2 linked regions of the Homo sapiens genome follow. The protein of the gene in region 1 purifies or fractionates together with the protein of each later gene. This does not show direct contact. Each region holds a gene or a part of one and is shown on either strand. Other genes may lie near its edges. The genes, in order: FADS1 and UQCC1.

Region 1 (14,774 bases):
CCCCTCGCCCTGGTTCCCTCCCTTCCCCATGCTGCCTGCCGACTGTGACGCCCCGTGCACTGCGGCCTCCCCGCGCCGGCTGCTCGCTGCACAGACGGCTGCCTCCCAGCCGGTGTGTGCAGCCCGGGCCCTCTTCGCTTTCGGCTTTTGTCTTCTCCTACTCCTCCCACCGCGCCCCCTCCCCCAGCCTTCTCGCCTGCGCTCGGGAGTGTCCCTGCCTTCCTGGCGGAGGATCCCTGGCTTCCCAGTGCCCCCAAGCGGTCCCCTTCCTCCGCCCCTCCCTCAGCCCTCCCGCTATGGACTTTTGCCTCCAGTAAAAACTCCCCGGGAGCTCAGGGCCTCGACACCTCCTCTGCCCGCCCCTCCGGCTCCCCCCGCCTCGGGTTCCACATCCTCCCGCGTTCCCCGCCGCCCGAGTTTCCACAGCGATCAGCAGAGCGCCTGCACCAATCCGGTCGCGTCGCCCCGCCTGCCATTGGCCCAGGAGGATCTTTCGAAGGCCAGCGGGCTGGAGCGGCGGGTCCCCGGCTCCCCCGCCCTCCCGCGTGGAGTCGAGCCCTGCTGCGAGGCAGGCTACGTGTCCGACCTCCTCCCTCCCCCACTCTCCGGCCCCGGGCGCCGGAGGAGATCCTAGAGGAGATCCCGGTGGGGGCAACGAATGGGCTCCGCGCGCTCCGGGGCGCGTGCGCGCACGCCCGGCGCTCTGGGGGTTTGCACCTGATGCCGACACAAAGCCGGCGCGGCCACCAGGGTGCCAGCAAGCGGCCGGGCGGGTGGACCGGCGGGCTGCGGGGCACTCAACTCCAGGGCCGGCTTGGCTAGGTGACGCCCTTCCTTGGCGCGCGGCAGTCGAGACTCCAGTATCCCACATTGTCCGCGCCATCCACATTCTGGCGCCTTTCTGCAACCTCCCTAGAGACACAAGCCGGCCTTGGATTAGAGGGCTTTGAACCCTCTAGTCAGACAATCTTAGAAAAGAATTGCGGAACCTCTGCTCTGCTTTCTTGGTCTGGGCGCCATGGCTGCGGTGAGGGGGAAGGGAGGGGAAGGCAGAGGAAGGGGGCGATGAGGAACTGGCGCGGTCCTTGCCCTGGTCTCAGTAAGCTCAGTCTCTTTGGGAATCGTGGAAGCAGACACATCATTGGGCAGTGATGTTGTGCAGACTCCAGCAAATAAAGACTGCCGTATCGAAGGGATAGGAGGAGGGTTAGGTCTTTTAGGCGTGGGGCAAGAGACAGGCCCCTCAGACCCCAGCTGGATGGGGCGGCTTAGTGCCGGGCGTCCTGGGGGAAATGGGCCTGACTGCATCCGGAGGGCTAACGGGACACGTGGGAAGTAAGGATGAACAGAGAGGGTGGGGTGCACGAGGCTTGGGAATCACTAGAGGAGTTATAGGGCCCTCAGATTTCAATGGGATTTACAGGTGCCTGTGTGCTAGCACACCCTAATCATTAGATTCTCATCACAGGCTGAGAGGTAAACAGGACGCATATTATTACATCTCACTTGAAAATGGAGAGCCTGAGATTGAGAGAGATGGTCAAACGGGCCCTGCCCAATCTAAATTTCACAGCAATGCAGGGGTGGTGGGGGGATCACTCTGCCCAACTGGTGGGGTTGTACTTGGGGGGGCAGATGGGCTCCCTTTCCTCACATTCACACAGTCCCCAACCTCTCCCATCACATTTCATGCTGGTGTCAGCCCTGAGCATCCTTCATTCACTCCACAGACTGCAGACATAAAGACAGTAAGGCCTCTCTGTCTTTGAGTGTGAGCAGACATCCCAAACAAAAGCCTTCTGTACAAAATAAGAGGATGAAGCAAGACCTCCAGAGAGTATGGTGGCCTTGAGGACTGTCAAACGTTGACGGAAATGGAACCAAGAAAATTATTTTCTCAGAAATGGATTAACATACCATATAGATAACTTTAATGAACATTTGTAAAGGGTGTGGAGCTCGGAGCAGGGAGTGATAGCTGAAAGGCAGAACCAGGGAGTATCTCACAGAGGCTTTGAAGGTTCAGGCCCTAAAAGGGAGCACGTATGGGTGGCCTGTGTAGGGTGGCTGAGAAGCGTGGACCGGCCAGGGCCTGGGGTCCCCAGCGGCTCCCAGCACAGTACCAGCCAGGGTAGGTCCTGAAAAAACATAAAAACATGTGTTGAAGACACAAATGAATGAATGAAGTTCAAAGAATGGCTCCAATGAGGCCGGCGGTAGATGGGGCTCAAATTGAGAAAAGCCCCAGCAGCCTCAGTAAGGGGTAGGAAGGGAGGACTTTACCATGGAGGAGGCTTGGACATCCGTAAAGCAGGTGTACTGTGATCAGATCCATGGTGTAGAAAGATAACTCCAGAGGCTGGGGCTGGACTGGGATGTACGGGAGAAACTGGGGAACAGTGATGAGTTCAAAGATGAGGGCAGTGCTCGAGGAGAGGGGAGGGGAGGCCTGAATTAAGAGAGAACTTTAGGGGGCTGACCCCACACTGGACACTGCCATGTGCCTCCCTGCCCTCTAATTTTTTTTTGAGATGCAGTCTCACTCTGTTGCCCAGGCTAGAGTGCAGTGGTGCGATCTCTACTCACTGCAAGCTCCACCTCCCAGGTTCACGCCATTCTCCTGCCTCAGCCTCCCGAGTAGCTGGGACTACAGGCGCCTGCCACCACACCCGGCTAATTTTTTTGTATTTTTAGTAGAGACGGGGTTTCACCGTGTTAGCCAGGATGGTCTCGATCTCCTGACCTCGTGATCCACCTGCCTCGGCCTCCCAAAGGGCTTTTTCTTTCTTTTTTTTTTTTTTTTGAGACAGGGTCTCACTCTGTCGCCCAGGCTGGAGTGCAGTGGTGCGATCTCAGCTCACTGCAACCTCCACCTCATGGGTTCAAATGGTTCTACTGCCTCAGCCTCCTGAGTAGCTGGGATTACAAGCACCCGCCACCATGCCCGGCTAATTTTTATATTTTTAGTAGAGACAGGGTTTCACCATGTTGGCCAGGCTGGTCTCAAACTCCTGACCTCAGGTGATCTGCCCACCTCAGCCTCCCAGAGTGCTGGGATTACAGGCGTGAGCCACCCTGCCCAGCCTAGAATATCCTTTGGAGGTAGAATCAAGACCGCATTAGTTGGAGGTACAGGGGCAGGGGTGATGGTAGAGATGAAGGAATAAGAGAAATAAGTCTGATTCTAGCATTTGAGTTGAGCAAATGAATAGATAATGGGACCATTTACCAAGATGAGGGAACAGAGTTAGTACAGGGGTGAAAAATTAAAAATTCTATTTTAACGTTATGTTTGAAACACCTAGGCTGGGAGCAGTGGCTTATGCCTATAATCCCAGCACTTTAGGAGGCCGTGGTGGGTGGCACCATGCCCAGATAATTTTTGTATTTTTAGTAGAGATGGGGTTTCACCATGTTGGCCATGATGGTCTCGATCTTCTGACCTCGTGATCTGCCCACCTCAGCCTCCCAAAGTGCTGGGATTACAGGCGTGAGCCACTGCACCCGGCCAACACCTGATTCTCTCTTACTGCAGAAGGGTCTCCTCCATGTGACAAAAAAATATGGCTGTATTTGCTAAGCTACGCTAGCAGAAATAATTCTCCCCCATTCCCTGCTCCCAAGGATTAATTCCAGTTTAATGGGCTCTGCATCAGATGCTAACCATTGGGCCACTGTTATCAGACGGCTGAGTTACTCTATTAGGTGTAGGTCATAAGCCAAGCAGCAGACCTGGGCTTTGGGGAACAGGGTCTGTTCCTTTTTGTGGGAAGTCACAAACCAAAAGCAATTACAGACCGCTACAGTATTCCTTTCCCATACCTACCATGTGATGTTAGACCTCTGTCTCTGACCTTCAGTTTCCTCATGATAAAAAGGAGACAGTGATTTTTCTTTCTTTCTTTCTTTCTTTCTTTCCTTTCTTTCTTTCTCTCTCTCTCTCTCTCTCTCTCTCTCTCTCCCTCCCTCCCTCCCTCCCTCCCTCCCTCTCTCTCTCTCTCTCTCTCTCTCTCTCTCTCTCTCTCTTTTTTTTTCCCCCAAGATGGAGTCTCACTCTATCCCCCAGGCTGGAGTGCAGTGGTGCAATCTTGGCTCACTGCAACCTCTGCCTCCCGGGTTCAAGCGATTCTCCTGCCTCAGCCTCCCGAGTAGCTGGGATTACATGGCATGTGCCACCACACCCAGCTAATTTTGTATTTTTAGTAGAGACAGGGTTTCTCCATGTTGGTGAGGTTGGTCTCGAACTCCCGACCTCAGGTGATCTGCCCACCTCGGCCTCCCAAAGTGCTGGGATTACAGGCATAAGCCACCGCACCCAGCGGAGATAGTGATTTCTAACCTATCTCATCTATTTTAATAACGAGGCTCAAAGGACACAAGGTATGTGAAAGTGCCATACATGTATTTTCTTAACTAGCAATATTGGTGAGGTCAAACTTTAACCAAGCTCACTAGATAATGATTTATTAATATGTGGTGAAAGTCATAACTATTTTTAAAAAATGAATAATTTTCAACAACAAAAATGGCATCAACTTAGTAAGTGCATCAAATTTAGATGCCTTAAATGACAGGCTGGGGACCCTATCTAAGAAACTGGGTTAGGCCAGGCGTGGTGGCTCACACCTGTAATCCCAACACTTTGGGAGGCCAAGGTGGGAGGATCACTTGAGCCCAGGAGTTTGAGACCAGCCTGGGCAACACAGTGAGACCCTGTCTGTACAAAAATATAAAAAATTAGTTGGATGTGGTGGTGCATGCCTATAGTCCCAGCTACTCGGGAGGCTGAGGTGGGAGGAATGCTTGAACCGCAGAGGTGGAGACTTCAGTGATCCATGATCGTGCCACTGCACTCCAGCTGGAGTGCAAGACAGAGCAAGACCCTGTCTCAAAACTCAAATAAAATAAGCTGGGTTATTATCTCTAGGTGGACATTGATAAAAGGTATGGTATGTTAGGTAAAACTTTAAAGCACAGATTGCTAGTGCTGGAAAGCATCTGGACAATCTCTTCACTTTACAGATAAGGGATCCGAAACCCATAGAGGTGGACATAATGTCCAAGATTACACAGCAGTAGGTGGACTAGCAGGTCCAGGTTGCAGGTGTCTCAACTACAATCCTTATTCTTTCCATTCTACCACATTGCCTCCCTTCCTTGGTACATTCTACTGAAACTTGATGGATCCTTCTCCAACTCTGAAGTGCACAGAGAATAGAATTTGAGATCTTCACATCCCAGAGTCTAGTGCTTCGTTGCTGCATCTTTAGTGCTCATAGTATTGGTGGAGAGGTACTTGGTCAAGGAGCTGTAGGACACCATTCCTTTCCTGTTCTGGTGATAAGAAGTGCAGTAAAACTAAGGAATGCATACTAAGTGCTCGAGGAATACCTGTGAAATAATTCAGCAGTAAATTGGTAATTTGGCAACAAATGACAAGAGACTAAAAATGTTATTACCTGATCCACTAATTACACATGTAGAATTTATCCTAAGAAAATGTTCAGAAATAGAAACCAATATCTATATACAAAAATATCCATCGCAACATTTATACAAGCGAAACTTCTACACAAATGTCCAACAATAGGGAAAAAGTTAAGTATATTGGGAGTATATATATGTGTGTTTATAGATATATGATGACTTACTATAGTGAAGTAAATATTCTCATTATAAAATTTTAAGCTTAGCTTTTTTGTTTTATTTTAAAGAGAGATCATTTGTACTGGAAAGTTACATTAAAGGCCCAGCAAAATGCTTACAACAACGCCTAGAGGACTCCAGACCCATTCCCCGGGCAATCTGAAGATCTGGGACCTACCTACCCAGGCCTCCCTTCTCCCACTTAATAGAGGCAGGTCTGAGGGCCTGGGAGGAAGAAGGCACCGCAGAGAAGCAAGGACAACAGCCTTCTCCTCTTTGAACCAGGGTGGCCTTATACCAAAACATTTATTGAACTCACTGCTAAGGAACTCATGTAGAGAGGAACTAAAAGTTATAAATAAGTTCTGGGGTAAATTCTAGCCCCAAATATACTAAATTTCATGTGTGGCTTCAGCTCTTTGGATCTGTCACCTTGTCTATAAAACAGTGGGTTTAATATATCTGTCCCTAAGGCATCTATATTCTATACAATGATAAGAAGACTGGGCCGGGCGCGGTGGCTCACGCCTGTAATCCCAGCACTTTGGGAGTCTGAGGCGGGTGGATCACCAAGTCAGGAGATGGAGACCATCCTGGCTAACATGGTGAAACTTTGTCTCTACTGAAAATACAAAAAATTAGCCAGGCGTGGTGGCAGACGCCTGTAGTCCCAGCTACTCAGGAGGCTGAGGCAGGAGAATGGCGTGAGCCCTGGAGGCGGAGGTTGCAGTGAGCCAAGACAGCACCACTGCACTCCAGCCTGGGTGACAGAGCGAGACTCTGTCTCAAAAAAAAAAAAAAGACTGCATTAAGGAAATCCCGTGAATTCCTCCATGAGCCTGCCTCTGCCCCATCCCAATCTCCCACACTCTTAGAATGCAGCAAAATGAGAGTCCTGTTTCTAGCTCTCGCTCTGCCTCTAATAGAGGTATGATTGGGATTCTCCCTTTAGTTTAAGCACTATATGTCATAAATTATTTTTAATATTACTTAACATTAATCTGCAGAATTATTACAGATGACTTTTCTTAAAACAAAGACTGATTCTGTCAACTTTATTAGTGCCTACTGTGTTGTAGTCACTGCACCCCCATAAGTTATCCAATTTCACAGAAATCCAGATTTTTCAAAAATGGTTTTGGTCTTTAATGGCCTGAAGGGCTGCTACTGAGGGGAGGCTGCAGCAGAGGCTGAGCACAACCGGTATTGCTTCTCCTATATGTGTTGACTTTGTAAAGGATCCAGGCTATTGGCCAACTATTATGTTTAGGATCTTTTGTTAAAATGGATCAAAATTTGAACTCACAATTCAGGTTATTCCAACAGCCACTGGCAGTTAGGTTATTCAATTATGGCTTCATTACAATCGGCATTAAGGTCTTTTTTTTTCTTTTCTTTAGAGAGAAAATGGTGGGACAGTTAGGAAGGGGTCTCACTATGTTGTCTAGGCTGGTCTCCAACTCCTGAGCTCAAGTAATCCTCCCACCTCAGCCTCCCAAAGCACTGGGATTATAGGCACGAGTCACTGTGCCTGGCCTGGCATTAGGGTCTTAAGCTCATTTCGTTCTGTTCCTTGAGGATTAATTTGGCCAGAACAGTTAGTATTCACAAGTGGCAACCTAAAATTAAGTATGTGATTCATATCCAGGATGAGGCAAGTTCCCTTAGGATCAACAGGGCCTGCAAGGCAAAGGTTTCCTTTAGTTGACCTGGATATGGGTTTATTGCAGTCTGTGTGACCACCTGTGTAGGTGGGTAAGGAGATGAGAGGGCAACACGACATTTGCCTAGTGGCCTATAGGCTTACTCACCTGTATTTTTTCAGGTTGAAATCATCAGTTGATTCAGCAAATTTTTTATTTATTTATTTATTTAGAGACAGAGTCTGGCTCTGTCACCCAGGCTGGAGTGCAGTGGTGCAATCTCGGCTCACTGCAACCTTTGCCTCCTGGGTTCAAGCGATTCTCCTGCCTCACCCCCACAAAGTAGCTGGGATTACAGGCACCCCCCACCACACCCGGCTAATTTTTGTATTTTAGTAGAGACAGGGTTTCACCGTGTTGGCCAAGTGGGTCTGGAGCTCCTGACCTCAGGTGATCCGCCCTCCTCACCCTCCCAAAGTGCAGGGATTACAGGCATGAGCTGCCACGCCCGGCCAATTCAGCAAATTTATGTGGGATTCCACCTAGAACTCCAAACCAAGGTGCTCTGAATATGTATTGGTAGTATAAACAGAATCCACAGCCCTATCCTGGATTATAAGCTCGTTAGGGAGGTAGCAAAATACATGACACTGACCTAAGAACACATGAAAAGCAAAGAAACATGAATGCAAAGTCATGTCATATAAGCTGTTTAAATCCTGAGTAAGATGAATTTAATTTGCATCTATCCTACTGACCTATAATCCGTGACTCACTTGTCTCTCTCCTCCAGTAGACATGACTAGGCATGACCCATATAGTACTGAACTTTGTATTCCCAGCACCTTACCAAAGTAGGTGCTGGGAATACAAAGAGGAGACACCCCACAAATGTTAAATAAAACACTTAATGAATGGTTCTAGGTAGGTGGGGTTGATCAAGGAATTATCTTACAAGTGGTATGGGTTTTTTGGTTTTTTCTGAGGTGCAGTCTCACCATGTTGCCCAGGTGATTCTCCTGACTCAGCCTCCCAAGTAGCTGGGATTACAGGCACTAATTTTTGTATTTTAGTAGAGACAGAGTTTCACCATGTTGGCCAGGTGGGTCTCGAGCTCCTGGCCTCAGGTGGTCCACCTGCCTCTGCCTCCCAAAGTGCTGGGATTACAGGTGTGAGCCACCGCGCCCAACCTAGTCTTTTTATAGAACAGTTATCTCTGTAGCCAAACTTACATCATATTATTTAATTTTCCTTGATTCGGGGGAGGGGGGAGGGATAGCATTAGGAGATATACCTAATGCTAAATGACGAGTTAATGGGTGCAGCACACCAACATGGCACATGTATACATATGTAACAAACCTCCATGTTGTGCATATGTACCTTAAAACTTAAAGTATAATAAAATAAAAGATTTACATAAAACATTTTTCCTTGATTCTGTATTAAAGGAAAGATGACATTATTTTCAATGTCTGCAAAATATTTCACTGATGGGCATTTAGAGTGTTTCCATTTCCCGCTATCATAGATACTGCTTTAATGAATATTTTTTGTTTATAAATAGTTTTCTTTTTTTGTGTGTGGATATAGAATCTTGCTTTGTTGCCCAGGCTGGAGTGCAGTGGCACAATCTCGGCTCACTGCAACCTCTGCCTCCCGGATTCAAGCAATTCTCCTGCCTCAGCCTCCCGAGTAGCTGGGACTACAGGCGCACGCCGCCACGCCCAGCCGATTTCTTTTGTTCAGGCTGGTCTTGAACTCCTGAGCTCAGGCAATCCGCCTGCCTCGACCTCCCAAAGTGCTAGGATTATAGGCGTGAGGCACCCCGCCTGACCTATAAATATTTTTCTAAGAACATTTCCTTAGGCTATATTCCTAAACATGGAATTATTGGGAACATTTTTATTTTTCTATTTTTTTTCATCTCTTCAGTATTCAAAACATTCCTAAATTCTGGCCGGGTGCGGTGGCTCACGCCTGTAATCCCAGCACTTTGGGAGGCCGAGGCGGGCAGATCACGAGGTCAGGAGATCAAAGCCATCCTGGCTAACATGGTGAAACCCCAACTCTACTAAAAATACAAAAACAAAATTAGCTGGGCGTGGTGGCGGGCACCTGTAGTCCCAGCTACTTGGGAGGCTAAGGCAGGAGAATGCCATGAACCTGGGAGGTGGAGCTTGCAGCAAGCTGAGATCAGGCCACTGCACTCCAGCCTGGGCGACAGAGCGAGACTCCATCTCAAAAAAAAAAAAAATCTTAAATTTCTATATAAGTTGTCAAACTATTTTTTCCAGTTTAATCAACTTACACTTCTACCAGCAGTATGAGAGCTTTTATCCCACTGCACAGTCACATAGGAAAAATGGTTTATGTAAAGGACCTCTCTTCTGTTATTTAATACCCATGAATTTCTTATATAGTTGTAATCAGCGAACCCATACTACTTTGGGTTCTGCTTATTTCACGGGGAAGGATTCTATATCTATCAATATAGTTCACATTCTAGCCATTTAAAATCATTCTTTAATTCTTCATTGTGTTAACAGATCCCAATAAGCTTGGCGATTTTCTTATTGTCAGGACTCGGGTTTATTTCCAGTTTTTGCTATTAAATTGGCTATTTCTGCATCTTTGCACAGTCTCCCCTACTTTACCAAGAGTGAAACTGCTTGATCAAAGAATAGAAAATGTTTTGTAGCTCGCATTAGACACTGCCAAGTTGTTGGGCAAGGTTTTTAAAAAAGGAATATTGGCTGTACAGAGGTGCAGCTGTGTGGACCATCATTCCTGAGCAGGGTCCAATAGCCTGGCATCTTACCTGGAAGTCAGGACATCTAAACTTCCCTATGGGAACTTGGTAAGCCCCTTCCCCATTTCGAACCTCAATTTTCTTATCTATAAAATGAAGAATTTGGATGGAATGAATTAATCCTTTTCTACCAGAAATCTAGCCATATTTCACCTAGTCTATTCTGTATCACCCTCTCCTGACTCCTACGTGCTCAGAATCTAGCTCAGTGCTTGGGACAGTTATGTTTCCTTTCCCTTTGAAGTGCCCAAATACCAGTGTAATGAGAAATATGGCAGAGCCTGAGAGTTCAGAGCACAGGCCAGGGTCAAATCTCAGCCCTCCACTTACAAGCTGTGTGACAAAATAACCTCCCCCGGGCTCAGTTTCTTCACTGTAAATTAGGTTAATTGTTCCAACCTCATAGGGTTGTTAGGAGAATTAAATGAGTTAAGGTTTGCAAAACGCTAAGAACAGTGCCTGGCACACAGTAAGTGCTTTATAAAGTGTTTGTTGAATAAATAAAATTTTGGACCTAAACTCTGGGTCTCTTCAGGACTGCAACAGCTTTGTAACTGGCAACCCCACTTTTAGGTGCGTTCCCACTCCTCTAAAACCCAGAGATCTAAATGCCAAATCTCTCTGCTTAAAAAGTCTCCCAGGGCTCCTAGGCGCCTCCAGGCTAGAACAGAAATGCCTCAGCTTGAAGACCCAGGCTTTTCAGGTGAAACACCTAAGGGTCAGGAGACGCTAGGATCATCACTCAAGGATCCCAGTGAATTTTTCCAAAATACAATAAAAATAAAAACAAAAAGAGGCAAACAGGGTTATAAAAATTGTGGGGCATTTTAAATGTTTCATTGAACAAATTAAAGCATTAACAGCCCTCCCCCAACCACCACCAAGCCCAAGAGACCGTAAATATGCTGTTCACAAGATAACTGCAACTTTCAAGGGCTCTCAGGCTGCTACTTCGGGCAGCACAATTGGCGGCACGACGTGGCAAGCAGGCAGTAGTTTCCAACCCTGGAGGGTCAGCGTCTGGAGACCCCGGCCAAGGCATCCACAGCCTAAAGATGATGTCCGCGACCGCCCGGGCAGCCTCGTGCACGGAAAAACCTCAACCCCGGCCCCGCCCACCCTTCCTGCGGCCACCCCGCAGCCCTGGCCCCTCAGTCCATTCACTCCTGCAGCGCGGCCCCGCACCCAGGGCCTGCACTAGAACCGCTGTTCCTACCGCGGCGCCCCCTGGGAGCCAACGCCGCGATGCCCGCCTGACGTCAGGAAGTCGAATCCGGCGGCGACGCCTTTAGGGAGCCCGCGAGGGGGCGCGTGTTGGCAGCCCAGCTGTGAGTTGCCCAAGACCCACCGGGGGACGGGATCTCGCTCCCCGCGCCACGAGGCTCGGCCAATGGGAACGCGCGCTGCGAGGCCCGCCGGTCTGCCCTGCGGTGCTGAAAACCCGGCGCGCAGGCGGCTGGCTCTGGGCGCGCGCCAGCAAATCCACTCCTGGAGCCCGCGGACCCCGAGCACGCGCCTGACAGCCCCTGCTGGCCCGGCGCGCGGCGTCGCCAGGCCAGCTATGGCCCCCGACCCGGTGGCCGCCGAGACCGCGGCTCAGGGACCTACCCCGCGCTACTTCACCTGGGACGAGGTGGCCCAGCGCTCAGGGTGCGAGGAGCGGTGGCTAGTGATCGACCGTAAGGTGTACAACATCAGCGAGTTCACCCGCCGGCATCCAGGGGGCTCCCGGGTCATCAGCCACTACGCCGGGCAGGATGCCACGGTGAGCGCAGCCAGGCGGGGGCACAGGAGAGGGCGGGACCGGAGGCTGAGTGCAGGGGAGACAGAGTTACGCACTCCGAGCCAAACACCGACTAATTCGGAGGAAAGCCCGGAGGCGCCTGATCATACCTGTTGCCCGGTGATTGGGTGTCCTGCGGATGCGGGATGAAAAGGCGGGAGAGAGGCCTGGAGAAGTGGAGTCTGGGGAGTGGGGATGGAGGCCAACAACACGCACACACAAACAAAGGGTCCCGCCTCCCTGCCGTGCATTCCATCTGCAGCCCCGAGCCTCAGGTCTCTGGGCGGGGACAGAACCCCGAGCTGGGTAGGCTAGGAGGGAGGAGAGCAAGGATGCAGGCCGCCTGGGGAGGGAGGGGGTCAGTGGCCAGGGGAGGGAGTCACATCCTGTCTCGATGGCTAGGAGAGGCAGCGCAGCCGCGTCTGGACCTAGGTGCCGGTCTCCACTCGCCAGCAGGAGCGGAGAGGGAGCAGGAAAGGAGCCCATTCTCGAGGATGGGGCTGAAACGGGAAGCTTGGGGAGACCGCTGCCTTGGGGACCCCTGCGTCGTGTGAAGACTGGAGGACGCGGAAGGGACAGCGCTGGCCGGGGAGGGCAAGCGGCCGCTGGCGTACATAAGGGATTGGGAATGGCATACACTTAGCGAGGACCCCCAGAGCTGTTCTCGAATCGCCGGGGAGGCCACTGAGCCGCAGGCCAGCGAGGTCTTCAGCTATTCCGCGGAGCGGACCGCTGTTTACGCTCTGGGGCGGTAGGCCCTTCGCGGGGTCCTGTCCCTTCTTCCCTTGGTCTCACTGCGGGGTCGGCGCGCGCCCCAGCCCCAGGCCTGCTGCTTCCCTTTCTAGACCACAGCCCTCAGAGCTAAGGCCCCGGCGCCTCTCTGCTGGGTTGGAGTCCTGGGGACTCAGTCCTAGGGACTCGAAAGTCGGGGCGTTCCCTTCACCGCGTTTCCCCCTTGGCGGCCAGAATGGCGTCCCCTCCCCTTGCATCCCCCTCTGATCCCGTGCCCTGCAGCGTGATGCCCTCCACTGTCCCTATCCACTACCCTGGCGTCCCAGAGTGTGCCGCGGGTCACCAGGTTCCCATAACGTCGCAGCAGAGCTTAGACGCTGCGGGGCGAAGACCCGCCCCACCCTCTGACGCGACCAGCCTAGTGGGCGAGGCCAGAGCTTGCGCGGGTCAACCAGAGTGACCACTCGGGAGCCCTGACTGCGGCCAAGGGCGCAGGCGTGTCCCGGCGCATGCGCAGACGAAACAGGCACCAACGCTGGAGCTTCCCGCAGTGTGATTTGGGGCCGGGAATGCCGCGGCGGGGACGGCGATTGGTCCGTATGTGTGGTGCCACCGGCCGCCGGCTCCGCCCCGGCCCCCGCCCCACACGCCGCATCACTTACAGGGCCCGGGGCTGCCGGACCTGCCAACGTGAATCTTATCGCCATGGACCTTACCTTGCACAACCCAAAGTAGCTGCCTTGGGGCAGGGGGTGGCCAGAGTGCTTAGGGAAATGTGGAGCCCTACCCAGAACAACGGTGGAGGGAAAGGGAAGAAACGCAGAAGTGCCCCAGTTCGGACGTAGGGAAGTCTTCCTCTTCGTGGTTTTTGGAGAACCCTAGCTAAGAGAGGAAAGGGACTTATTGAAAGACCCGCAAGAAGGGACGGAAGTCTCATAGCCCTGAGAGGTGAAGCCAGCTGGAGTTGATGGGTCGAATGGGGACCTAGAGAACTTTTCTGTATCTAGAGGTTTGTAAAATGCACCAATCAGTGCTCTGTAAAAACGCACCAATTGGCGCTCTGTAGCTAGCTAGAGGTTTGTAAAATGAGCCAATCAGCAGGACGTGGGCAGGGACAACTAAGACAATAAAAGCTGGCCACCCCAGCCAGCTGCTGCAACCCGCTCCAGTTCCCTTACAGGCTGTGGAAGCATTGTTCTTTTGCTCGTCACACTAAACCTTGCTGCTGCTCATTCTTTGGGTCTGCAAAGAGTGTTATTCCTTTAAGAGCTATAACAGCGGGAAGGTCCACGGCTCCATTCTTGAAGTCAGTGAGACCATACCCGCCGGAAGGAACCAACGCCCGACACAGCCCCACCCATCTCTCCTGTTTCTCACCTATACTGAAATTCTTGGGCAAAAGCTGTCTGTGGACACACCCAGGGGAAAGGCCAGCCCAGGCAGGTGTTTCTTAGTGGTTCCCCTCAGCCAATGCTTCCCATTCCTTGATGCATCCTTCTAACTAGAGCAGATACTCGGTGATCTTAAACTGTGGACACCTGGGAGCACCCTCAAAAGGCAGCTGGGCCTAGGGAGATGGCCTGTGCTTCTGTGTCAGGAGTTGGTTCCTTCAGGTGGGCTCGTGGTCTCGCTGACGTCAAGAATGAAGCCATGAACCTTCGCGGTGAGTGTTACAGCTCTTACAGGTGGCGTGGACCCAAAGAGTGAGCAGCAGCAAGATTTATTGTGAAGAGCAAAGAACAAAGCTTCCACAGCGTGGAAGGGTACCCGAGCAGGTTGCCGCTGCTGGACGTTGGGGGGTGTGAGGGGGAGCAGCCTTTTTTTTTTTTTTTTTTTTTGAGACGGAGTCTCCCTGTCGCCCAGGCTGGAGTGCAGTGGCGCGATCTCGGCTCACTGCAGGCTCCGCCCTCCCCCGGGGTTCACGCCATTCTCCTGCCTCAGCCTCCCGAGTAGCTGGGACTACAGGCGCCCGCTACCTCGCCCGGCTAATTTTTTGTATTTTTAGTAGAGACGGGGTTTCACTGTGTTAGCCAGGATGGTCTCGATCTCCTGACCTCGTGATCCACCCGCCTTGGCCTCCCAAAGTGCTGGGATTACAGGCGTGAGCCACCGCGCCCGGCCGGGAGCAGCTTTTATTCCCTTATTTGTCCCTGCCCAT
Region 2 (15,552 bases), on another chromosome or scaffold:
TGCCCAGGCTGGATTGGAGTGCAATGGCACGATCTCGGCTCATTGCAACCTCCACCTCCCGGGTTCAAGCAGTTTTCTTGCCTCAGCCTCCCAAGTAGCTGGGATTACAGGCGCCTGCCACCATGCCCGGCTAATTTTTTTGGTATTTTTAGTAGAGACAGGGTTTCGCCATGTTGGCCAGGCTGGTCTCGAACTCCTGACCTCGAGTGATCCCCCCCACCTCGGCCTCCCAAAGAGCTGGGATTACAGGCGTGAGCCACTGTGCCTGGCCACCATATTGTTTTTATCTATTCTTTGGTTGATGGATATTTGGGTTGCTTCTACTTTTCGGCTATTATGAATAATGCTGTGATGAACATTTGCAAACAAGTTTTTGTGTGGATATATATTTTCATTTCTCTTGGATATATACCTAGGAATGGAATGGCTGAATCATATAGTAACTGTATGTTTAAAATTCATAGAACAGCCAGACTGTTTTCCAAGAGTTTGCAGTGAGCTGAGATTGCTCCAGCCTGGGCGACAGAGCAAGAGTCTCTCTCAAAAAAAAAAAAATTTTTTTTTTCTTCATAGAGATGGGGTCTCACTATGTTGCCCAGACTGGTCTCAAACTCCTGGCCTCAAGGAATCCTCTTGCCTGGGCTGCCTGAGTTGCTGGGATTATGGGCATGAGCCACCATGCTTGGCCCAATTGTTTTATTTTAAATAAACGGCTGGGTTTCAATGTGGGGCCTATAAAGAAGTATGGGAATTCTGAGGGGTGAAGTCATTGTGAAGAGAAAGATGGGCAGAGGGAGCTTGGGGAGAACAGTGGAGATTGCTGGGGCTTCAGGCTGAGGGTTTGGGGTACAAGAAGTTGAGGAGCTCTGGCAGCGGAGGGAAGCCGAGCAGCACTGGGGAGCTGAGGTTAAGGAGAATGGGGAGTCCTCTGTGAGAGGACTATGGAATCTATGTGAGATAAAGTTGTCTATACTGCCAGCCCATTCCTAGAAAGTTCCTTCTACTTTCTGCATGAATGAAACCTGGCCTTCCCATTTGAATATTACTTCCCTTGTAGCCCTCTCTGGAATGTTGTCTGCCATCATTATATGCTCTGTTTGTGTTAAGACTGGGAGTTGACCAGGTACGGTGGATCACCCCTGTAATCCCAGCACTTTGGGAGGCAGAGGCGGGCAGATCACCTGAGGTCAGGAGTTCGAGACCAGCCTGACCAATATGGTGAAACCCCGCCTCTGCTAAAAATACAAAAATTAGGTGGGCTTGGTGGCGGGCGCCTGTAATCCCAGCTACTCAGGAGGCCGAGGCTGGAGAATCGCTTGAACCCAGGAGGCGGAGGTTGCAGTGAGCCGAGATTGCGCCATTGGACTCCAGCCTGGGTGACAGAGCAAGACTCCATCTCAAAAAACAAACAAACAAACCACAACAAAAACTGTTTCTTGATTTTTTATTTTAATTAATTAATGTATATATTTTTTGAGACAGGGTCTCACTTTGTCACCCAGGCTGGGGTACAGTGGCACGATCAGTGCTCACTGCAGCCTTGACCTCCCCAGGCTCAGGTGATCCTCCCATCTCAGCCTTCTGCGTAGCTGGGACCACAGGCATACACCACCACACCCAGCTAATTTTTCTGTGTTTTCAGTAGAGGCAGGGTTTTGCCATGTTACCCAGGCTGGTCTCAAACTCTTGGGCTCAAGAGATCTGCCCAGCCTGGCCTCCCAAAATGTTGGGATTACAGGTGTGAGCCACCGTACATGGCCCAAAGTCAACTTCTTAAATATGAATTAGGTAGCCCTCCCTACTTAATATCCTCCAATGGCTGCATACGGTGGCTCTCACATGTAGTCCCGGTTACTCAGGAGGCTGAGGCAGGAGGATCCCTTGAGCCCAGGAGTTCATGATCAGGTTGGGCAACATAGAGAGATCCTGTCTCTTAAAATATAATTCCTCTGGCCAGATGCGGTGGCTCACGCCTGTAATCCCAGCACTTTGGGAGGCCAAGGCGGGCGGATCACGAGGTCAGGAGTTCAAGAACAGCCTGGCCAATATGGTGAAATCCTGTCTCTACTAAAAATGCAAAAATTAGCCGGGCATGGTGATGCACAGCTGTAGTCCCAGCTATTCGGGAGGCTGAGGCAGAAGAATCACTTGAATCCGGGAGGCAGAGGTTGCAGTGAGCTGAGATTGCGCCACTGCACTCGAGCCTGGGCGACAGAGCGACCCCCGACCATACCCGGCTAATTTTTTGTATTTTTTTGTAGAGACAGAGTTTAGCCATGTTGCCTAGGCTGGTCTCGAACTCCTGGTCTCAGGTGATCCACCTGCCTCGGCCTCCCAAAAGTGTTGGGATTACAGGCATGAACCACTGCACCCGGCCTTAAAATGTACTGTTTTTTTTCCCCACCTCAAGACTCTTGTTCTGAAATCTTCTGTCCCTCTCCCACTTCCCAACATTTGCTGATAGAATAGCATTTGTACAGACACATAGACCAATAGAACAGAATAGAGACCCAAAATAAACCTATGCATTTACAGTCAATTGATTTTCAACAACGGTGCAAAGAACACACAATGGGTAAAGGGCAGTCTTTTTAATAAATGGTGTAGGGACAACTAGATATCCACATGCAGAATGAAATTAGACTCTCACCTCATACCATATACAAAAATCGAAGGTCGGGTGTTATGGCTCACACCTTTAATCCTAGCACTTTGAGAGGCTGAGATGAGAGGATTGCTCAAGCCCAGAAGATTGAGACCAGCCTGGGAAACATAGAGAGACCCCCGTACCCCATCTCTACTAAAAATAAAAAAATTAGCTAGGCATGGTGGCACATGCCTACGGACCCAGCTATTCAAGAGGCTGAGGAGGGAGGATCACTTAAGCCCAGGACTTTGAGGCTACAGTGAGCCTTGATTGCACCACTGCACTCCAGCCTGGGTGACAGAGCAAGACCCTGTCTCAAATAAAAATCAATTCCAAATAGATTTAAGCCTTAAACACAAGACCTCAAACTAAAATTACTAGAAGAAGAAAATATAGAGGAAAAGCTGCATGACCTGGGTCTGGGCAATAATTTTTTTAATATGACCCCAAAAGTACAGGCAAAAAGAGTGAAAATAGAGAAATAGTGTTATATGAAACTAAGAAACTTTTGCACAGCAAAGGAAACAATCAACGGAGTGAAGAGACAACGTATGGAATGGGAGAAAACATTTAAAAACCATATATCTGATGAGGGGTTAATACCCAAATTTTAAAATGGGCAAAAGATCTGAATAGACATTTCTCAAAAGAAGACATACAAATGGCCAACAAGTATATGAAAAAATGCTCAGCATCATTAATCATCAGGGAAATGCAATCTAAAGCCACAATGAGATATTACCTTGCACCTGTTCGAATGGCTACTATAACATTGTTCCTAAGGACGTGGAGAAAGGGAACCCTTGCACACTGTTGGTGGAATGTAAATTAGTACACCCATTATAGAAAACAGTATGGAGGTTCCTCAAACAATTAAAAACAGAACCACCATAGGATACAGCAGTCTCACTATTGGATATATATTCAAAGGAGATGAAATCAGTATGTTGAAGAGGCATCTATACTAACATGTTCATTGCAGTGGTATTCACAACAGCCAAGTATGGAATTAACCTAAGTGTCCATTAGTGATGAACAAATAAAGAAAATGTGGTGGCTGGGCGTGGTTGTTCACGCCTGTAATTCCAGCACTTTGGGAGGCCGAGGTGGGCAGATCATGAGGTCAGGAGACCGAGACCATCCTGACCAACATGGTGAAACCCGTCTCTACTAAAAATACAAAAATTAGCTGGGTGTAGTGGTGCACGCCTGTAATCCCTGCTACTCAGGAGGCTGAGGCAGGAGAATCGCTTGAACCTGGGAGGGGGAGGTTGCAGTGAGCTGAGATTGCATCACTGCACTCTAGCCTGGTGGCAGAGTGAGACTCCGTCTCAAAAAAAAAAAAAAAAAAAAAGAAAAAAGAAAGAAAGAAAGAAAGAAAATGTGGTTTATGACCAGGTACAGTGACTCATGCCTGTAATCCCAGTACTTTGGGAGGCAGAGGTGGGCAGATGACTTGAGGCCAGGAGTTCGAGACCAGCCTGGCCAGCATGGTGAAACCCTGTCTCTACTAAAAATACAAAAATTAGCCGGACATGGTGGCACGTGCCTGTAGTCCCAGCTACTTGGGAGACTGAGGCACAAGAATTGCTTGAACCCAGGAGGTACAGGCTGCAGTGAGCTGGGATTGTGTCACTGCACTCCACCCTGGGCGGCAGAGCAAGACTCTGTCTCAAAAAAAAAAAAAAGTGATTTATATATATAATGGAATGCTATTCAGCCTAAAAGAAGAAGGAAATGCTGGCCAGGTGCGGTGGCTCACACCTGTAATCCCAACACTTTGGGAAGCCAAGGTGGGCAGATCACCTGAGGTCGGGAGCTCAAGACCAGCCTGACCAACATGGAGAAACCCCATCTCTACTAAAAATAAAAATTAGCTGGGTGTGGTGGCACATGCCTGTAGTCCAGGCTACTTGGGAGGCTGAGGCAGGAGAATTGCTTGAACCCGGGAGGGAGAGGTTGCAGTGAGCCAAGATTGTGCCACTGCACTCCAGCCTGGGCAACAAGAGCAAGACTCTGTCTCAAGGAAAAAAAAAAGAAGGAAATGCTCATATCTATGACAACATGGATGAACTGGGAGGATGTTATGTTAAGAGAAATAAATGAGGCACAGAAAGACAAACACTGCTTGATTTCTCTCATATGTGGAATATAAGTTGAACACACAGAAGTAGAGAGTAGAATGGTGGTTACTAGAGGCTGAGGAGATGTTTGTCAAAGGATACAAAATTTCAGTTAAGAGAGATAAGTTCAGGAGGCCACTTTGGGAGGCCAAGGCAGGCGGATCACCTGAGGTCGGGAGTTCGAGACCAGCCTGACCAACATGGAGAAACCCCGTCTCTACTAAAATATAATATTAGCTGGGCGTGGTGGCGCATGCCTGTAATCCCAGCTACTCAGGAGGCTGAGGCAGGAGAATCACTTGAACCCGGGAGGCAGAGGTTGCAGTGAGCCAAGATCACGCCATTGCGCTCCAGCCTGGGCAACAAGAGTGAAACTCCGTCTCAAAAAAAAAAAGAAAAGATCTATTGTATAACATGGTGACTATACCCACTATGAATATGTATTGTATTCTTGAAAATTGCTTAAAGAACATATTTTAAACATTTCCAGCACAAAAATATGAGGTAATGCATATATTAATTAGCTTGACTTAGCCATTTCACAATGTATACATATTTTAAAACATCCTGGCCGGGGGCACGGTGGCTCACTCTTGTAATCCCAGCACTTTCGGAGGCCGATGTGGGTGGATCACCTGAGGTTAGGAGTTTGAGACCGTCCTAGCCGAAATGGCAAAACCCCGTCTCTACTGAAAACACAAAAATTAGCCAGGCGTGGTGGTGCGCATCTGTAATCCCAGCTACTTGGGAGTCTGAGGCAGGAGAATCGCTTGACTTGGGAGGTGGAGGTTGCAGTGAGCCGAGATTGAGCCACTGCACTCCAGCCTGGGCGACAAGAGTGAAACTCTGTCTCAAAAAAAAAAAAAAAAAGAAAAAAGAAAACATCCTGTTGTACACAATATATATTTTTTGTCAATTAATAAAAATCAATAAATTTAATTAAAAAAATAGTCGAGTGAAGTTATTTCCCATGACTAGCTCCTCTTCTTCCTTTAGATTTCATCTTACATGTCACTTTCTTGGAGAGGCCTTACCAACCTAACCAAAGTAGCTCCCCAGTTTTAATTTTTTTCACTGGGTTCCTATGCCTCCCCCACCAGTCTAAGAACTCCATGAAGCCAGTATGTCTTGTGTTCAGCACATAGGGAAGACTCAATAGGTCTTTGTTGACTGAATGAAATGAAAGAAGTCCTTCAACATCCTGCCCCTCTGCTCCCTCAACCCCCAAAGCACCAGTACTTTGTCTTCTCTTCTCTTGGGATGTAATGGAAGAGGAGTCTTCTACCAAGGCCGTTCTCTGCCACTTTCCTCAAGAAGCTCCTTGCCTCTTTGATTGATTCTCCTGTATACTCTTTTTTTTTTTTTTTTTTTGAGACGGAGTCTCGCTTTGTCACCCAGGCTGGAGTTCAGTGCCCCAGTCTCAGCTCACTGCAACCTCTGCCTCCCGGGTTCAAGCGATTCCCTGCCTCAGCCTCCCAAGTAGCTGGGATTACAGGCACACGCCACCATGCCCGGCTAATTTTTTTCGTATTTTCAGTAGAGACGGGGTTTCACCATATTGGTCAGGCTGGTCTTGAACTCCTGACCTCAGGCAATCCACCTGCCTCGGCCTCCCAAAGTGTTGGGATTACAGGCATGAGCCACCGGGCACGGCCCTGTATACTCTTCACTAATCTTTTCCTATCAATATGCAAAGATGTTTCCCTTAAACAACCAACCAACCACAAATCCCAAAAGTTTCTTCCTCTACCAGGCTTCAGATCGGCACATGACCGCCTTCTTGCCTTGACTTTCAGGAGTCTGGTATCCCCCGTATTCTTTTATCTTAGCCTCCTTCTCTGGCTTTTTTTTTTTTTTTTTTTTTTTTTTTTTTGAGACAGAGTCCAGTCCTGCTCTGTCGCCCAGGCTGGAGTGCAGTGGCGCGATCTCGGCTCACTGCAACCTCTGCCTTCAGAGTAGCTGGGATTACAGGCACACACCAACATGCCCGGCTACTTTCTTTGTATTTTTAGTTAGGGACGGGGTTTTGCCATGTTGGCCAGGCTAGTCTCGAACTCCTGATCTCAGGTGATCCGCCCGCCTCGGCCTCCCAAAGTGCTGGGATTACAGGCGTGAGCCACCGCGCCCGGTCTTCTGGCTCTTTCTAAAGATTGGGATTTCCTAAAGTCCTGTTCTTTTCAACCTCCATTGAAAAGTGTTGGGGTGGAGTTTGGGAAGGAGGGGCTGAGGAGTGAGGCTGGGTTAGGTGGGGAATAAAGAGAGGGATATGAGAAGCCCCGAGGTCTGGGGTCAAGGAGACAGGCGTGGGGGAAGGATTTGAACCACTGTTACGTGTAGTGGGGGAGACAGCAGGGAGAGCGTGCCCGGGCACGACAGCCTGGTGCACAGCCGAGAAAACAACAGCGCGTGCGCGTAGCGACCTCTTTGCGCCTGCGCCCCCCTTGCCAGTCTTTCGCCGGCAAAAGGAGGACGTAGAAAAGGGGACACCGGAAACTCACTCTTCACCCGGAAATGGTTATTGAGGAACATGGCGTTGCTGGTGCGAGTCCTTGTGAGTGAAGGAGTAATTTTCTACGGTAGCTCTCTGGGTCCCGGGTTGGAGTTCGACAAGGCAGGGCGGGAGGAATTGGAAGGAATCGCAGGAGGGAAGCCTGTGTTATAGCTAGGCTGAGTGGCCGCTTTTCCGTGGGGAAACTGAGGCAGCTTCCGACCTCTTCCTACCCCGTTTTGACCTTAGCTCCCCCATCTTTCGAGAAGGGGAAGACTGACATCTGGCCTTTATTTGATGGGGTTTACTTTTCCTTCCCTCCCCCATGTACCTGCTTCCCCTCAGGGAGAGGAGCATGTAGGACACTGATTGGAGTTTCAGGAGGCCTGGGTTCTAGTCCCTGACTGTCACTGATGCATAGTGACTTTAAGCAAGTCACTTTTGGGCCTCATTGACCCTATGTGAAAAACGAGGACATTTATCTCCTGCAGTCCCTTTAGATTCTGAGATTCTCAGGGTTTCTTTCATAGGTAATAAGTCAGTTCTTAACTGTACAGTTAAGTGGAATATAGATTATTAGATTGAAAGCTGCGTGAGAATTGGAGTCATGTCTGTCTCCGTCGTTTTCACTTTGCCTAGCATGGTGTCTGGCACATCATAGGTGTTAAATGATTACTTGTTGAATAAATGAATGAAGTAAGGAAAGACTACCAGACTCTTTAGCACCCGTGTGTGAAACTACTGCACCTCTTGAGATTTAGTCCTGACCCTTCTAGCATACTCTTTTCTCTAGCAATTAAAGGAGAAAAGAAAGTGGCAGCAGAAAAAACGTTAGGATACAGAGCTTAGTTTTTAATCATGGAGGGATGGGAGAGTGTATAGTTTTAGCGAGTCTTCAAAAACTGGGTCAAAGACACTGTTTTTCATAGTAGACATGGTCTATTCCTGTGTCTAGGTAACTTCTGAATTGTTATTTTACATTTGTGTTTTTGATCTTTTTATATATGTCTTACAAGGACGACAGTTTTACTTCTTGTATTCCTTGCCAGCCTAGCAGAGTGAGGTACCCTCGACTGCTGTTCAGTAAATATTTATTTGTAGAGTAGCCCCTGTAACTGCCAGAAAGATTCACCTGGTGAAGTGATTGTTTGATTTCAGGCCAGAAATTGATTCAGAAATGAGGACTGCTGGGGAAATGGCAATTAGAATGTTCTGAATTTAGTGGTTTTTTTTTTTTTTTTTTTTTTAATCCTTCCCCTGCCACCCTTTAGGGTTTTGTTTTTTTTTTTTTTTTTTTTGAGGCAGAGTCTTGCTCTGTCGCCGAAGCTGGAGTGCAGTGGTGCCATCTCGGGCTCACTGCAACTTCTGCTCCCGGGTTCAAGCAATTCTCCTGTGCCAGCCTCCCGAGTAGCTGGGATGACAGGCATGCACCACACCACACCTGACTAATTTTTGTATTTTTTTTTTTTTTGAGATGGAGTCTCGCTCTGTCACCCAGGGTGGAGTTCAGCGGTGTGATCTCGGCTCACTGCAACCTCTGCCTCCTGGGTTCAAGCAGTTCTCCTGCTTCAGCCTCCCAAGTAGCTGGGATTACAGGCGCCTGCCACCACACCTGGCTAACTTTTGTATTTTTAGTAGAGATGGAGTTTCACCATGTTGGCCAGACTGGTCTCGAACTCCTGACCTCATGATCCGCCTCCTGCGGCCTCCCAAAGTGCTGGGATAACAGGCATGAGCCACCGAGCCTGGCCTGACAACTATCATTTTATAGGGCACTTACTACGTGCTAAGCACTTTAAAATACTTACCTAATCCTTATAACATCCCTTTGGAAAGGAGGGCGTGTTATTTCCTCTATTTTACAGATAAGAAAACTGAACCACAGAGAGGTATTCCTGGCCAGGTGCCGTGGCTCACACCTGTAATCCCAGCACATTGGGAGGCTGAGGTAGGTGGATCACTTGAGGCCAGGAGTTCAAGACCAGCCTGGCCAACGTGGTGAAACCCTGTCTCTACTAAAAATACAAAAATTAGCCAGGCCTGGTGGTGGGCGCCTGTAATCCCAGCTACTCGTGAGGCTGAGACACGAGAATTGCTTCAACCCAGGAGGCGGAGGTTGCAGTGAGCTGAGATTGTGCCACTGCAGTCCAGCCTGGGTGAAAGAGTGAAACTCTGTCTGAAAAAAAAAAAGAAGTATTCCTGAAACATTCTTGTTAGTCTTGCTTTATTTTTTCCTCTTTTTGTCTTGTCAGCCAATATTTTCCCTTCTCCAGTGATGGTTTTGGGAAGGAGGAGGAAACTAAAACACTGCTATTGTTGAATGACTACAGCAGAGAGCCTGGACATTTGATCAGTGGAACTGGACATGCTTATGGTTTTTATGAGTTGTCCTGGGCATTGCTGATCATTTCTGCTTTTCTTTGGAAATAGTAAAAATTGCAGAAAGCCACCCTGTACTTTAGAAAATTAAAAAAAAGTTGTGGTAAAATACATGTAACAAAATTTACCTTTTAAACTTTTTTTTTTTTTTCTGAGACGGAGTTTTGCTCTTGTTGCGCAAGCTGGAGTGCAATGGCGTGATCTTGGCTCACTGCAACCTCTGCCTCCCGGGTTCAAGCGATTCTCCTGCCTCAGCCTCCTGAGTAGCTGGGATTACAGGCACGTGCCACTACGTTCAGCTAATTTTTTGTATTTTTAGTAGAAATGGGGTTTCACCATTTTAGCCAGGCTGATCTTGAATTCCTGACCTCAGGTGATCTGCCCGCCTTGGCCTCCCAAAGTGCTGGGATTACAGGCATGAGCCACTGTGCTTGGCCACCTTTGAAACTTTTTAAGTGTACAGTTCTGTGGTATTGAGTGCATTTACATTGTTGTGCCATCTTTACCACCCTTATCCACAGAATTATTTTCATTTTATAAAACTGAAACTCTGAACCTATTAATAACTCTCTATAGTCTTTTCTCCCCAGCCCCTGGCAGCCACCATTCTACTTTCTGTCTCCGTGAGTTTAACTACTTTGTGTACCTCATATAAGTGGAATCATACAGTATTTGACCTTTTGTGACTGGCTTATTTCATTTAGCGTAATGTCCTCAAGATTCATCCATGTTGTAGCATGTGTCAGAATTTTCTCTTTTTTTTTTTTTGGAGATAGGGTCTCGCTCTGTCATGCGTGCTGAAGTGTAGTGGCTCAATCATAGCTCACTGCAGCCTTGACCTCCTGGGCTCAAGTGATCCTCCCACTTCAGCCTCCTGAGTAGCTGGGACCACAGGCATGTGCCACCACGCCTGGCTACTTTTTTTTTTCTTTTTTGTAGAGATGGGGTCTCCTTATGTTGCCCAGGCTGGCCTTGAACTCCTGGGCTCAAGCAATCCATTGTCTCGGTCTCCCAAAGTGCTGGGACTACAGGCGTGAGCCACTATGTCCAGCCTGTTTAATTTGTTGAGGAATTGTCCTACTGTTTTCCACAGCAGATACACTGTTTTACATTCTCACTAGCAGTGCACAAGGGTTCCAGTTTCACCACATCCTTGCCAACACTTGTTATTTTCTGGTTTTTGTTTGTTTGTTTTTGAGACAAGGTCTTGCTGTGTCATGCAGGCTGGAGTGCAGTGGCCCAATGACAGCTTACTGCAGCCTCCACTTCTGGGCTCAAGTAATCCTCTCATCTTAGCCTCCCGAGTAGCTGGGACTACAGGTGTGTGCCAACACACCCAGCTAGTTTTTAAATTTTTAGTAGAGAGGAGTTCTTGCTATGTTGCCCAGGCTGGTCTCAAATTCCTGAGTTTAAGTGATACTCCTGCCTCAGCCTCTCGAAGTGTTAGGATTACAGGTGTGAACCACCACACGTGGCCTTATATTCTGTTTTTTGACAATTGCCATTCTAATGAGTATGAAATGGTGTCTCATTGTATTATTGATTTACATTTCTCTAGTGACTAGTGATATTGGGCACTTCTTCATGTCTTTTTTCTTTTTGAGACAGAGTTTCACGCGTGTTGCCCAGGCTGGAGTGCAATGGCATGATCTCGGCTCACCGCAACCTCTGCCTCCTGAGTTCAAGTGATTCTCCCGCCTCAGCCTCCCAAGTAGCTGGGATTAGAGACCTGCACCACCACACCTGGCTAATTTTGTATTTTTAGTAGAGATGGGGTTTCCCCATGTTGGTCAGGATGGTCTCAAACTCCCAACCTCAGGTGATCCGCCTGCCTCGGCCTCCCAAAATCCTGGGATTACAGGCGTGAGCCACCACGCCCAGCCTTAAATTTTGTATTTTTAGTAGAGATGGGGTTTTGCTATGTTGGCCAGGCGGGTCTTGAACTCCTGACCTCAGGTGATCCACCCGCCTTGGCCTCCCGAAGTGCAAGGATTACAGGCATGAGCCACTGCATCTGGCAAGTTTTTCATATATTTTGAATATCAATCCCTCATCAGATATATGATTTGCATGTATTTTTCCTATCCTATGGGTTGCTGTTTCAGTCTGTTGATACTATTCTTTGATACACAAAAGTTTTAAATTTTCATGAAGTCCAACTTATTTTTTTTTCTTTTATTGCCCACTCTTTTTTTTTTGACAGGGTCTTGCACTGTCACCCAGGCTAGAGTGCAGTGGCACAATCTAGACTCACTGCAGCCCCTGCCTCCCAGGTTCAAGCAATTCTCCTGCCTCACCCTCCCAAGTAGCTGGGATTACAGTCATGCACCAGCACACCTGGCTAATTTTTATGTTTTTAATAGAGAGGGGGTTTTCCCATGTTGGCCAGGCTGGTCTCAAACTCCTGGCCTCAAGTGATCCGCCCACCTCAGCCTCCCAGAGTGCTGGGGTTACAGGTGTGAGCCACCATGCCTGGCCTATTGCCTACTTTTTTGATATCATGTCCAAGAAATCATTGCAAAATCCAATGTCATGAAGCCATTCCCGTAAGTTTTCTTTTGAAAGTTGTATCATTTTAGGTCCTACATTTTGGTCTTTTATCCATTTTGAGCTAATTTGTGTACATGTTACAAGCTTTTACTATATTTTATGAGCTGTTTTCTTAGTGGCTGCCCTGGGATTACAATGAACATCTTAATTCATAACAGTCTTGTTTGGATTAATACGAACTTCATTTCAGTAATATGTAAAGACTTTCTTTCTATATAGCTCTGTTCCTTCCCGAACATTGTGTTATTGTCATCTAAATTACATCTTTATGCATTATATGTCTACCAATGTAGATTTATAATTATTTCTTCTTGTAGTTGTCTTTTAAATTAAAAAGAAAAAGAATTACAAACAAAAAATCCATTTGTACTGTATTTTTTATTTACCTAAACAGTTACCTTTACCAGTCTACTTTATTTCTTCATGTAGATTTGAGTTATTCTGTAGTTTCCTTTCATTTCAACCTGAAGGTCTGCCTTATTCTTGCAGGGCAAGTCTACTACTGACAAATTCTTTCCATTTTGTTTATCTGGGAAATCTTCATTTTTTCCTTCACTTTTGAATAATAGTTTTGCTGGATATAGAATTCTTGTTTGAAAATCTTTGTCTTTCCTTGTTTTGACTATTTTATCCCACTGCCTTCTGGCTGCTACAGTTTCTGAGAAGAAATCCACTGTTAATGTTCTTGAGGATACTTTGTATATGATGAGTTTCTTCTCTTGCTCATTTAAAGAATCTTTGTCTCTTGGCAGCTTGCATATGATGTGTCTGTGGCTCTCTTTGTGTTTATCCTATTTGGAGTTAGTAGAGCTTCTTGGATTCCTAAATTACCATTTTCCATTATGTTTGGGATGTTTTCTGCCATTATTTCTTCAAATATTTTTCGGTCCTTTTCTTTCCTTCTGAGACTCTAATTATACATATATTGGTGTGTTTGATGGTGTCCCACAGTCTGAGGCTGTTAAATTTGTTCTTTTTTTTCTTTTTTTGTTTTTGCTTTTCATTTTGAGGCTACTAATTTGTCTTTATTGCTTTTTCTTTCTGTTCCTTGGACTGGATGATCTAAATTGACCTATCTTCAAGACCACTGATTATTTTCTTCTGCCTGTTCAAATCTGCTGTTCAGTCCCTCTAATGAGTTTTTCATTTTAGTTGTTGGACTTTTCAATTCTAGAATTTATTTTGTCTTTAAAAAAATAACTTCTCTTTCTGTTGATATTCTCTTTGGTGCCATCTTGGCTCACTGCAACCTCCACCTCCCGGGTTCAAGCGATTCTCCCGCCTCAGCCTTCTGAGTAGCTGGGATTACAGGTGCCTGCCACCACGCCCGGCTAATTTTTGTATTTTTAGTAGAGATGGGGTTTCACCATGTTGGCCAGGATGGTCTCAAACTCCTGACCTCAGGTGATCCCCCTGCCTTGGCCTCCCAAAGTGCTGGGATTACAGGTGTAAGCCACCGCACCCGGCCACTTTCTTATAGTTCTTTAGACATATTTTCATTTAGATCTTTGAACATATTTGAAATAGTTAAAAATCTCTTTGTCTGCTGCCTGGGTTTTCTTAGAGACAGTTTCTATTGATTGCATTTTTTCCCCCTGTGTATGGGCCATACTTTATTGTTTCTTTGCATGTTTTATAACTTTTTGTTGTTGAAAACTGGACATTTTAAATAATGTGGCCACTCCGGAAATCAGATTGTTTCCCTTCCCAGGGTTTGCTGTTGTATTTTTGTTTAGTGACTTTTCTGAATTGATTCTGTAGTCTGTATTCTTTGTTGTTTGTGGCTACTGAAGTCTCTGCTTAGATAGCTTAGTGGTCAGGTAATGATTAAACAAATTTCTTTAAATTTCTGTTAAATTTCTTAAAATTCTGTTCTCACTGCCTGGAAGCAGTGAGTATCCCAGTTTTTGCTTTGGGGCTCTGTGTGCACGTTGGGATGTACCTATAACACTCTGCCAGGCATTCGATAACTCTGCCTTAACTTTCACTTCCTGCTATGCAGAACCTCAAGGTCAACCACAAGTAAGAGACATTCTTAGGTCTTTCCTGAGCATGTGCACAGCTTTGGGTATATGCACAGACCTGGGTATGTTCATGGCTTCCTAGATGCCCAGGAATATATTGGGGCTTTTCTAAGCCTCTGTGGACATCTTATTCCCCAGCTTTTCCTTTAAACCTTTTTGGTTAGCCTGTTGTTTTCTCCACCTGTTAATCACTGCCTCAGGAAGCCATGAAGTCAAACAGTTACCTCTATTTGTTTTCAACCGGTGCTCCTGGGGAAAAGGTTTTTTCACACTGGGTGAGTTCTAAGACAGCCTTGAAATAGGGCCTTCTAAGGAACTGTCAGACAGGTTGAATAATGCCAGTTCTTTTTTTTTTTTTTTTTCAGAGTCAAGCTTCTTTTTTTTTTATACTTTAAGTTCTAGGGTACATGTGCACAACGTGCAGGTTTGTTACATATGTATACATGTGCCATGATGGTGTGCTGCACCCATTAACTCATCATTTACATTAGGTATATCTCTTTTTTTTTTGAGATGGAGTCTTGCTTTGTCACCCAGGCTGGAGTGCACTGGCGCAATCTCAGCTCACTGCAAGCTCCACCTCCCGGGTTCACGCCATTCTCCTGCCTCAGCCTCCCGAGTAGCTGGGACTACAGGCGCCTGCCACCATGCCCGGCTAATTTTGTTTTTTTTTTTTTTTTGAGACGGAGTCTCGCTCTGTCACCCAGGCTGGAGTGCAGTGGTGCAATCTCGGCTCACTGCAAACTCCGCCTCCTGGGTTCACGCCATTCTCCTGCCTCAGCCTCTCCGAGTAGCTGGGACTACAGGCACCCGCCACCACGCCTGGCTAATTTTTTGTATTTTTAGTAGAGACGGCATTTCACCGTGGTCTCGATCTCCTGACCTCGTGATCCGCCCGCCTCGGCTTCCCAAAGTGCTGGGATTACAAGCGTGAGCCACTGCGCCCGGCCACGCCTGGCTAATTTTTTGTATTTTTAGTAGAGATGGGGTTTCACCATGTTAGCCAGGATGGTCTCGATCTCCTGACCTTGTGATCCGCCCTCCTCGGCCTCCCAAAGTGCTTGGATTACAGGCATGAGCCACCACGCCCGGCCTAGGTATATCTCTTAATGCTATCCCTCCCCGCTCCCCCCACCCCACGACAGGCCCTGGTGTGTGATGTTCCCCTTCCTGTGTCCAAGTGTTCTCATTGTTCAATTCCCACCTCTGAGTGAGAACATGCAGTGTTTGGTTTTCTGTCCTTGTGATAGTTTGCTGAGAATGATGGTTTCCAGCTTCATCCATGTCCCTACAAAGGATATGAACTCATCCTTTTTTATGGCTGCATAGTATTCCATGGTG

The links.
Region 2: the proteins of FADS1 (region 1) and UQCC1 purify together in Homo sapiens (affinity purification with mass spectrometry; 2 studies listed by BioGRID and IntAct, with this or other methods). This does not show direct contact.

What each region holds. Positions count from the first base shown.
Region 1 is NC_000011.10:61,813,647-61,828,420, reverse strand, and holds the start of FADS1 (acyl-CoA (8-3)-desaturase), read left to right. Parts: upstream 1-11,417; 5' UTR 11,418-11,491; coding exon 11,492-11,866; exon of another isoform or gene 11,867-11,994; coding exon of another isoform or gene 11,995-12,135; exon of another isoform or gene 12,136-12,218; intron 12,219-13,170; exon of another isoform or gene 13,171-13,185; coding exon of another isoform or gene 13,186-13,347; exon of another isoform or gene 13,348-13,564; intron 13,565-14,774. Other genes in the region: FADS2 (acyl-CoA 6-desaturase), read right to left, coding at 1-30.
Region 2 is NC_000020.11:35,403,709-35,419,260, reverse strand, and holds the start of UQCC1 (ubiquinol-cytochrome c reductase complex assembly factor 1), read left to right. Parts: upstream 1-7,287; 5' UTR 7,288-7,297; coding exon 7,298-7,321; exon of another isoform or gene 7,322-7,346; intron 7,347-8,968; exon of another isoform or gene 8,969-9,206; intron 9,207-15,552. UniProt on the Homo sapiens protein: Required for the assembly of the ubiquinol-cytochrome c reductase complex (mitochondrial respiratory chain complex III or cytochrome b-c1 complex). Involved in cytochrome b translation and/or stability.